Linked DNA regions of Homo sapiens: regions 2 and 3 are each reported to be linked to region 1. The links are microRNA targets in miRTarBase. Many come from high-throughput screens and were not tested one by one. Region 1 holds a microRNA gene; each other region holds the end of a gene's coding sequence.

The links. The annotated mature microRNA hsa-let-7c-5p reads UGAGGUAGUAGGUUGUAUGGUU and lies in region 1 at 1,076-1,097, opposite strand. An mRNA with a match to its seed (bases 2 to 7 or 8) in the 3' UTR can be bound and repressed. Matches are read on the target gene's strand: a 7mer-m8 pairs with bases 2 to 8, a 7mer-A1 pairs with bases 2 to 7 and ends in A, and an 8mer does both.
Region 2: the mRNA of FMO4 is a reported target of hsa-let-7c-5p. Seed matches in the 3' UTR shown: 8mer at 2,579-2,586.
Region 3: the mRNA of PLEKHA3 is a reported target of hsa-let-7c-5p. The part of its 3' UTR that is shown has no 7-base or 8-base seed match.

The regions. Positions count from the first base shown.
Region 1 is chr21:16,537,784-16,540,934 of GRCh38, reverse strand. It overlaps MIRLET7C (microRNA let-7c), which reads right to left and starts at 1,107; the gene lies at 1,024-1,107. The region is part of intron 6 of MIR99AHG (mir-99a-let-7c cluster host gene); the gene reads right to left. It overlaps MIR99A (microRNA 99a), which reads right to left and starts at 1,846; the gene lies at 1,766-1,846.
Region 2 is chr1:171,341,626-171,344,625 of GRCh38, reverse strand. FMO4 (flavin containing dimethylaniline monoxygenase 4) reads right to left here. Exons shown (of 10, transcript NM_002022.3): 10 at 2,542-3,000. The coding sequence ends at 2,787. Among named protein-coding and RNA genes, the nearest start is that of FMO4, 29 kb to the right of the region's middle.
Region 3 is chr2:178,503,478-178,506,477 of GRCh38, reverse strand. It overlaps PLEKHA3 (pleckstrin homology domain containing A3), which reads right to left. Exons shown (of 8, transcript NM_019091.4): 8 at 1-2,718. The coding sequence ends at 2,591. Among named protein-coding and RNA genes, the nearest start is that of TTN-AS1, 18 kb to the left of the region's middle.

The sequences.
Region 1 (3,151 bases):
GGGCAGGAGACGAGGGAAATACACAAAAGACACAAATCTAATTTTTAAAAATCATATTGTTAAATGAGACTTAAAATAGAATATTTAGTTGAAATTGATGCTAAAAGAAAAACGATTCATCTGGAAAGAAAGGTATTTAAATTCAACAGAAATATGAATTATCTAAGTGTAGGATCATAAACTGTCATGAACTAATTAGTAAAAATGAATTTACTCTATTATTTTTATTCTAGATAAAAAGTACTTCTAAATTTTAACTTATCTGTTTAGAATGAATGAACACATTCAACACAGTCAAAAATCGACACATGTATTACTGATGCGGAGCAGTCCAGGAATTAAATTTAAACAGTTTTAGGAGCAATAAATAAAACTCAGATGTTTGACCACTGCCATAACTCATTCAAATATTCAATAGAAACTCATCACAGAGTGAGGTCTTACACTCCATTCACTAATCCAATAAATAGTTAGTGCTCATTATGAGTAAGGCATTGGAGGGGATACAGTGAAAAATAAAACATGGACTTTGCCCTCAAGGGGCTTACAGTCTAGTGCGGAAAAAATCAGCAAGCACATAAATAGCCATAACATAAGGTAGAAAGTGATGTGTCATAAGGAAAACGCAAATAATGTGCTATGGGAGCTATTAACTCTAGCAGACATTTTTTATTATAGTGTCTAAGCAGCCAATATAAATAGACCAATGATCCATTTGAAAATTAAGGTCTGAATTTTGTTAATCTATAGATGATAAAAAGCTTTAATATTAATGCAATTTAAGTCACTACCTACAATTTTCTTAAAATGTTTGAACATGGAGTGACAACCCATTAGAAATACCATTTTGACATTGTTCATAAGCAGATACAAATGGAATAATCTAATAGGGCTGAAATGATCATTTTAATGTAATAAAGGCCCAAATCAATGATCCAAGATACTCATGACACATTACCTTCTTGCACACAAATTGGCTCAATCAGGTTAAAGTGATGAAGAATTCCTCGACGGCTCAAGTGTGCTCCAAGGAAAGCTAGAAGGTTGTACAGTTAACTCCCAGGGTGTAACTCTAAACCATACAACCTACTACCTCAACCCGGATGCACACAGCTTCCAATGTTGCTTCAAACTCCTTATCATATCTTCAGTCAGCTCCTCCAAATATGGCAGCCATACACCTAAGGGCTTGGCAAGGATATAGATATAATATTCTAACATTTTACCAGTAAACTTTGCTGCTAACTGTTTCTCATAGGACTAACCTAAACACTTGGGTTTCCAGCATAGGTCACGTAAAATGTCTTCTGACCATCTAACCTGCCATAGTTCTAGTCGCAATTAATAGTAAAAGTCAATTGCATTCAGCCTCATTTTTTCAGGAGAAATAGGCTCAATAAAAACATATAAATCCAATGGTAGTCTTTAATTTTCTTACTGAAGTTGAAGAGGTACACTAAGCACTACAGTATGCACTGAAGTTTCTGAACAGAATCTATTCAGATCCTGGTCCAAACCCTGCTATAAAGGTTCAACTTTCTTATGCAATTTACTGTACATGGAATCGAACTTGAATGGGTGTGATATAAACGCTTCCAAGTTGTTGAGAATTGAAGCCTGCCTTGTAAGACAGACAATGATTAAAATAAACATTAAAAACAAAGGAAAATATAATGACTTCAAAAGTATATAATCAACTGGAGTTTAACAGGATTTTACTGAACTATTGTTGAACGGCACTGTGTATAGCATTTTGTCAGATTACCACACTGACACAGACCCATAGAAGCGAGCTTGTGCGGTCCACTTCACCACAAGATCGGATCTACGGGTTTATGCCAATGGGCAACATCTTGCATGGGCCCCCTATTAATATAGAATTTGTTGTAAATATCTGATGCAATTAAGAGTCAAAAATAATATTGATCCTTTAGTATAAATGTTTTAAATGCTGAGTTCTAAGGATGCATATTCTCCATTAAAGGCCTTCATAAATATTCAAAACTAAATACAAATTTATATGCATGAGAATTTAAAAAGTAGTTTATTGAAAAATTTTTCACGAACTGCTTTTGTTTCAATAGTAAATATTTTGGAATTAAACTATTCTAATTGAGTTTTAAAAGAAAAAAGAATCCATACATGCATGTATGAATTATATAATTGTGAGGCATGAATGTAGTATTACGAGCCTATAATTAAAACCAAATTAACTATTAAGTTAATTGTGTATGAGTTAGACCGTGCTTATTTTAATTTTTATAAAACTAGTTTAGTTACTGGTTTCAAGGAATTGGTAACATTATAACTTTCTCATAAAACAGTAAGATCTTGTTCACTAGCTAGAGAATACAGGAAGTTATTATCAGCCTTAAATATATACATCTGTGTCTATAGTCGGAATGGTGCTAAAATTTACAATATTTGGATGAGTTAATATAAAACTAAACTAAATGGCACGATAATGGCATGATTACTAATACTCCACACTAACATTTATACTCCAGATGTATTACATGACATAGGATATCTTCTTTCCTAAATAAAATATATTTAAACTTATTGTTCAAAAAAGATACACTTAAAATGCATGGCTACATACAACTCTCATCTGGTCAACAGGTTGGGCAAAAATAAAATATTACTAAAAAATGTTTTAAACCACCAGACAACAAGCAAACACACAAACGAGTAAACATAAAGCCAGCCACATACACGTTTTTTTAAGATTGTAAACTCAACTGCAACAAAATGATAAGTTGTACAATCATTAATCATTTCACATCTATAATCACTTAGCATTTCCTAATTATATCTTTATTGTGTAAAATAATACTACATACTAATTGCTTAGTGATTTTGCATATTTTGAAATAAATACGTTTTATAGCCTTTATATAGATCATGTGTTCTACATAATTTTAAACCATTATTTATTCTTAAATTGTCCTCATAATTATTAAAAACTATAGTAAATAATCAACAATCATACATTCAGTTGTAGTAAAAATATTTCAACATATATTTATAAATGCAAATGTGAAATAAGAGGCAGCATTGGGTTTAGTTTTACCATAACTATAAGAAAGCATGTTTTGGTTTCATTGTCTTATCAGGTCATGTAAAAAAGATGAAAAAGCATGACCTTATT
Region 2 (3,000 bases), not on the chromosome of region 1:
TGTCCCCGATTCTGCAGCTATTAGTAGTTAACTTACTTTGGACCAAACACCGTGCATTTTCTCATTAATGTTCACAGTAAGGTAGGCCCTATTATGACCACTGTTTTCCGGATGAGGACACTAAGGCTTAGAGAGGCTAAGTCACATGGCCAAGACTTCATAGCTAACAAGTTGAGTTCTCATTCTCAAGTTAGTGCTCTTAACCAGTGTACTTCGCTCCTGTGCAAGTACTGGACTGTATAGTTCTATTTCTTCTAATTGCCACTTGGATTGTCCTTTACTTATAACATTAGCTGTTGGCGGACTGTTCTTGTTTGTTTGCAAGGCTGAGGTAATTTATCATGTTGGCAGAAGACAAGAATGTAGGTAGAAGAGAGAAAACAAAGAGTGCCAGCTGGCAAGGCCACTGTCGATTCATCAAATACTTCTTTAGCAATGCTTCATATCAGGCAGTGTGTCCGATGAACATGATATGATTCCTTTTAGGAACTCACCATTTGTTAGGTGACAGACAAAAAGAAAATGATACTATAGTAAGAAAAGAGCAGCACCAGAGCATACACAAGGTGCAGCTGCTACACAGGGGTGACCATTTCTGCTTTGGGGATTTAGGGAAGGCTGCACAGAATGAGAGCACTGAGCTCTCTTGAAAGATAAATAGGATCTCATCAGTCAGGCACGGTATAGATTTGTGTGCCTGGCAGAGGCAAGAGCTGATGCCAAAGGGAGGAGTTATGAAAGTTCATAGTTTGGTAGTGCTGGATGGGAGGGTTTGAAATAACAGGCATCCTGCTGACCCAGGCAAAGGGACTCAGACCATGAAGGGCCTTCTATGTTATGCTAAGGAATATGGGACTATTATGTCTTCTTTTTTTTTTTTTTTTGAGAGAGTCTCTTTCTGTCACCCAGGCTGGAGTGCAGTGGTGTGATCTTGCCTCACTGCAACCTCTGTCTCCTGGGTTCAAGTGATTCTCCTGCCTCAGCCTCCTAAATAGCTGAGATTACAGTCACGCACCACCACGCCCAGCTGATTTTTGTATTTTTAGTAGAGATGAGGTTTCACCATGTTGGCCAGGCTGGTCTTGAACTCCTGACTTCAAGTGATCTGCCCGCCTCAACTTCCCAAAGTGTTGGGATTACAGGCATAAGCCACTGTGCCCAGCCAAGGACTATTATCTCTAATCAAGATAGAGAATGAAGGATTTTATATGGGAGGGTGACATGATCAAACTGGATCCCTTTTGTGTGCCTCACCATATATCCTCTCCATCATCTTTGCTCTGCTCTGTGCCCTAGGAGCCTGACCTCTGTGGATAAAATCTGTTGGCAACCTTGCCTTCTGACTTTCATTTGGTTTGGCCCTTGGGGAGCACTAGCAAGGGATCAGAGAGTGGGAAGAGAGTAAGATTAGATAATTTATTCCCCCAGATCTCTACTTTTGTAGTCATCGTGCACCTGCCTTTGTCACTCAGCTGAAGGTCATTGCTCTTGTTAGGTGGCCCTCTACGCAGTGCTTGCTTTTTCTCTTTAGTAATTGCTTTATTCTCTTGCCTCATTAGGTCTATGGATAGTAAAGGTTACAAGTCTGGGAGTGTTTCATTATCTCTATGATCTTCCTACACTCTGCCCATATCTTTTAAAATAATCTCTATATTAAAATTTCCAGGCAGGCATGGTGGCACATGTCTGTAATCCCAGCAACTTGGGAGGTGGAGGAGGGAGGTTTGTTTGAACCCAAGAGTTCAAGATCTGAGATCTAAAAAAAATAGTGAGGCTGGACATGATAACTCATGCCTGTAATCCCAGCACTTTGGAAGGCTGAGGCAGAATGATTGTTTGAGCTCAGGAGCTTGAAACCAGCCTGGGCAACATAGCGAGACCCTGGCCGTATTTTTTTTAAAAGAAAGAAAAAAAAAGAAAGAAAAAGTAACACACTGTCCCTATGAAAACCTTTAAAAACATTAGCCAGTCATGGTCCCAGCTACTCAGAAGGCTGAGGTGGGAGGATAGCTTGAGCCCAGGAGTTCGAGGCTGCAGTGATCTATGTTTGCATCACTGTGTTCCAGTTTGGGTGATGGAAAAAATTTTCTCAACTTAATTTGAATGCCATTTTGTTCCTACTGAGACCTTCCTGGGAATCAGAGGTTCCTATATATTTATAAACCATATATTTACTTTAGAGTAATAAACCATATTGTATTAGTCTGTTCTATTGCTGCTAATAAAGACATACCCAAGACTGGGTAATTTATAAAGGAAGGGAGGTTTAACAGACTCACAGTTCCACATGGCTGGGGAGGCCTCACAATCATGGTGGAAGGTGAAGAAGGAGCAAAGACACGTCTTACATGGTGGTAGACACGAGAGAGCTTGTGCAGGGGAACTGTCATTTATAAAACCATCAGATATAGTGAGACTTATTCACTACCATGAGAACAGTATGGGAGAAGACCTGCCCCCATGATTCAATTACCTACCTCCCACGGCATGTGGGAATTATGGGAGCTACAATTCAAGATGAGATTTGGGTGGGGACACAGCTAAACCATATCATATATATTTATTTTAGAATAATCACTGAGGTAGCAGGGTAGAAGATGCATTGGAAAGGGTGGCAAGAAAGAGGGTACTGAAAACAAAGAAGAAGATAATACAATAATTCAGATAGGAGATGACTGGGCCTGAATTTGGCTAATAGCAGTTATGATGGAGAGCAGAGGAGGGATGCACAAGATACTTGGAGATAGAATTAGCATGACTTTGTGTAACCCTTGTAACAATCAGGTTCATCCTCGCCAAAGACTTACTAGGTAAGGGGACATTCTGTCCTGTAGTTTATCTCTCACCAATTTCAAGAAAAGTGAAGATTTACAGATAAGTAGAAGAGAGGCAAGTAGGACAGGTGCCCCCCAGGCTTTTAAATAATGTGACATGGAGGCAGGCTTGGAGGAATCAGGGACAATTCGAGTTTTTAAAGGTTTCAATGTTCTGTCCCACTGG
Region 3 (3,000 bases), not on the chromosome of region 1:
GCAATAGCATCCATTTCTGGATTTTTCCTGACTGAAGATCATGCAATAATCCCATATGATGTAAGAAAATTCAAATTCAGCTCATTTATAAAAGAATTGTATCAAAATCCCTTTAGTCATGGAGGCCTGCGATTCCCAAAGAATAGTGAGCAAGCACTTGAAATGAAAAACAAGCACTGCTTTTGCTTAGAAGATCACTGATAGGCTGCCAAGAGAACCTCCAAATTTCTCAATAACTTTTCATGTTTCTCAATAACCCCATGACCTAGACAAAGCAAAAAAAAGGGACTACTAATAACTAATAATAACCAATAATTTTTCTATAAAGTATAGAACAACTTGACAAGCTAAAATTCTTACAGAATTGTTATATGGTTCATCTTTTTCTTAAAATTCAAAAAAGTCAGGCACACTTGAAAATAAAGGACTCCTCAAAATGCAAGGTTCCCTTAAGCTTTATAGGTTTCTTCATGCTACTAATTCACTGATCAAAACCTGGATATAATTCAAGATATATTTATACTCCCACAAAAAAAATGATTTCACAGATGTGTTTGGTTCCTAACAATAACAACAAAAAGTGGCTCCAAGTCATAACAAAAGACATACTTAGGGATACCGCAAACCTGTTCAAGGACCTGTTTTAAGGGGGAAAAAATGATACAAACCAGAAATAATTGCATTGTATTTTTAAAATATTCACAGAAAACTCTTCACGAACCCATCTATTTGGGTAAAGCAATAGAAAATGGATGTGATTATTTTCTATAAGTTCAAAAGCTTGTTACGGTGTTTTCCTTATAAACCTATTACTGCAAAAAAACTCACTACCAGAAAAAACTCCCAATCAATAGCACCCTGACCTTCATGGTCTTAATACTGTGCAAGTTCTTACTACAAAATTTAAAAAAAAAAAAAAAACAAGAAAAACCTGATTACCTGCTCAACGTCATAACTTACTACATTATCAAACTTTTTTTTTCAAATTAGACATATGAAGTACAACTTATGAGCAGGCAAAGACTCCACTGAATATAGAGTAGTCTGATGACCTGTGTGTTATTTAAAATTACAAACACTTCAAGTAGCATACAGTTTACCCAAACACATATTAATGTATAGACTGTTTATGTCCATCTTAAACTTAAGATGGAAGGCCTATAATTACAGTTTTTTAAACAAATACCAAATATTAATTATTTTAAAATATCCCACATAAACTTACAAGATAAATTGAAATAAAATGAAATAGGTCACACCATTCTAAGCTCACAGGCAACAAAAATTATGCTTCATTTGTGTCTTCACCAGCAGGCCTAAATATACAAACAAACTCAAATCCATTAGAATTATATTAGTGCCTAATAAAGATTAGACAGAATATCAATGAATGTAAAAAATACAATGTATTATATGATGTGTTTGAATGCAAAAACCACGCATTTATTAAACATATGATTAACTTAAAAACAACACACCAGTTTGTTTTAAAGTGCTCCTTATCCAAAACCTTAAACAAAACTATCAGCCCAAAATGAATTCAAAAAAACAGATTACAAGGCAAACAATGACAATAGGTATGGACAGGCACTACCAAAAAATGCTATTTGTTCTTTAATTAAATAATGCCATTCTCAAGTGATATAGAGCAGTCATCTTGACAGAATTCCTTTTTGTATAAATATTCATAAATAAAAATGTCTCTAGATATTGGAAAGAGCTGCAAACAATACTTTACAACAGCAGCTTAATATCTATTTTAGGAAAAAAAAAGCACTAAAATTCTCTTCCATTGAAAGTTGTTTATTTCTCTAGTGTAAGTGAGCAAAGTCACTACAGCATTAAAATCTCTTTTCTAGAACAACGTAAAGAACAACGTATACACATCTTAAATTTGGTAGGTCACAAAAGTTAGAATGCAATCATCTTTTGAGGCAACAAGAAAATAAATACATAAAAATTAAACACTTTAACCCAAAATTTGGTATTGACAAATCAGTAGTGTCAACTTCACATATGAAGGACAATACAGTCTGGTTATTTAAAGATGCTCAATATGTCATGGTATTTGGGCTAAAGATACTTAGAATATTGTGTTTCCTTTTTGATTAAAGGAATACAATACAATCACCATCAAGCTGCTATCGTAACTCATTTTTAGCTGTGGTAAAGTGACCATTTGGTCCATGGCACAAGTTACATATATCACACTTCTGTCAAACTGAAACCTTATAAGATTTCATGTTTATAAGCTACAATACACCCTGACCATGCTGTCAGTCCCCTCAGAGTTTTTAAGAAAAATATCTACATTTGTCCTTATGGATGTCAAAATGTTACACCATCATTTGTTCAAAAAAAAAAGATGCACATTCATACTGTGAAGTTATTAGGAAAATACTCTTGCAAACAAACTATATAAAGATAAAATACACTTCAAAAGTATGTGGTTTGTTTTCTTGTTTGTCTGTTTTACAACATTCTATAAAGTGCAGAGTCCTAAGGGAAAAAACTACTCCCTATAACAATAGTTTAATTACAGCAGCTTTTGCATAGCAATACTTAGAGGAAGTTGGACACTTCAGTTTCTTCAGGAAGAGAAGGATGGAAGAGTATCTTCTGATTCAGATTGTTTTTTGGCCATAAGTCTGCTTTCTTCAGGAATGGTTGCTGATGCCAAATCTCCATTAAGTGTATTTTTTGAACAGTGAACAGGTCCTATGAAGACATTGATAAAAACGTTAAACATCCTGTCAATATTAACTCCAGTCCTCTGTGAAAGAACATTTTAAATTTCCTGTTCAGGGACATGAAATTCCTTTAGCTTCTGGCTAATTTTGTATTTCCTTGTTTGTTTCATGCAGGAAAACTTAACTTTTAGACTAGAGTATCAACAGCCACAAGGAGAAACATCAGAATTCATAAGATAAATGATGAAATTGCCTGAAGTAGAGATTTTTGTTTTGTTCACTGCTAGAATCATGGTTGGCACATAATAGG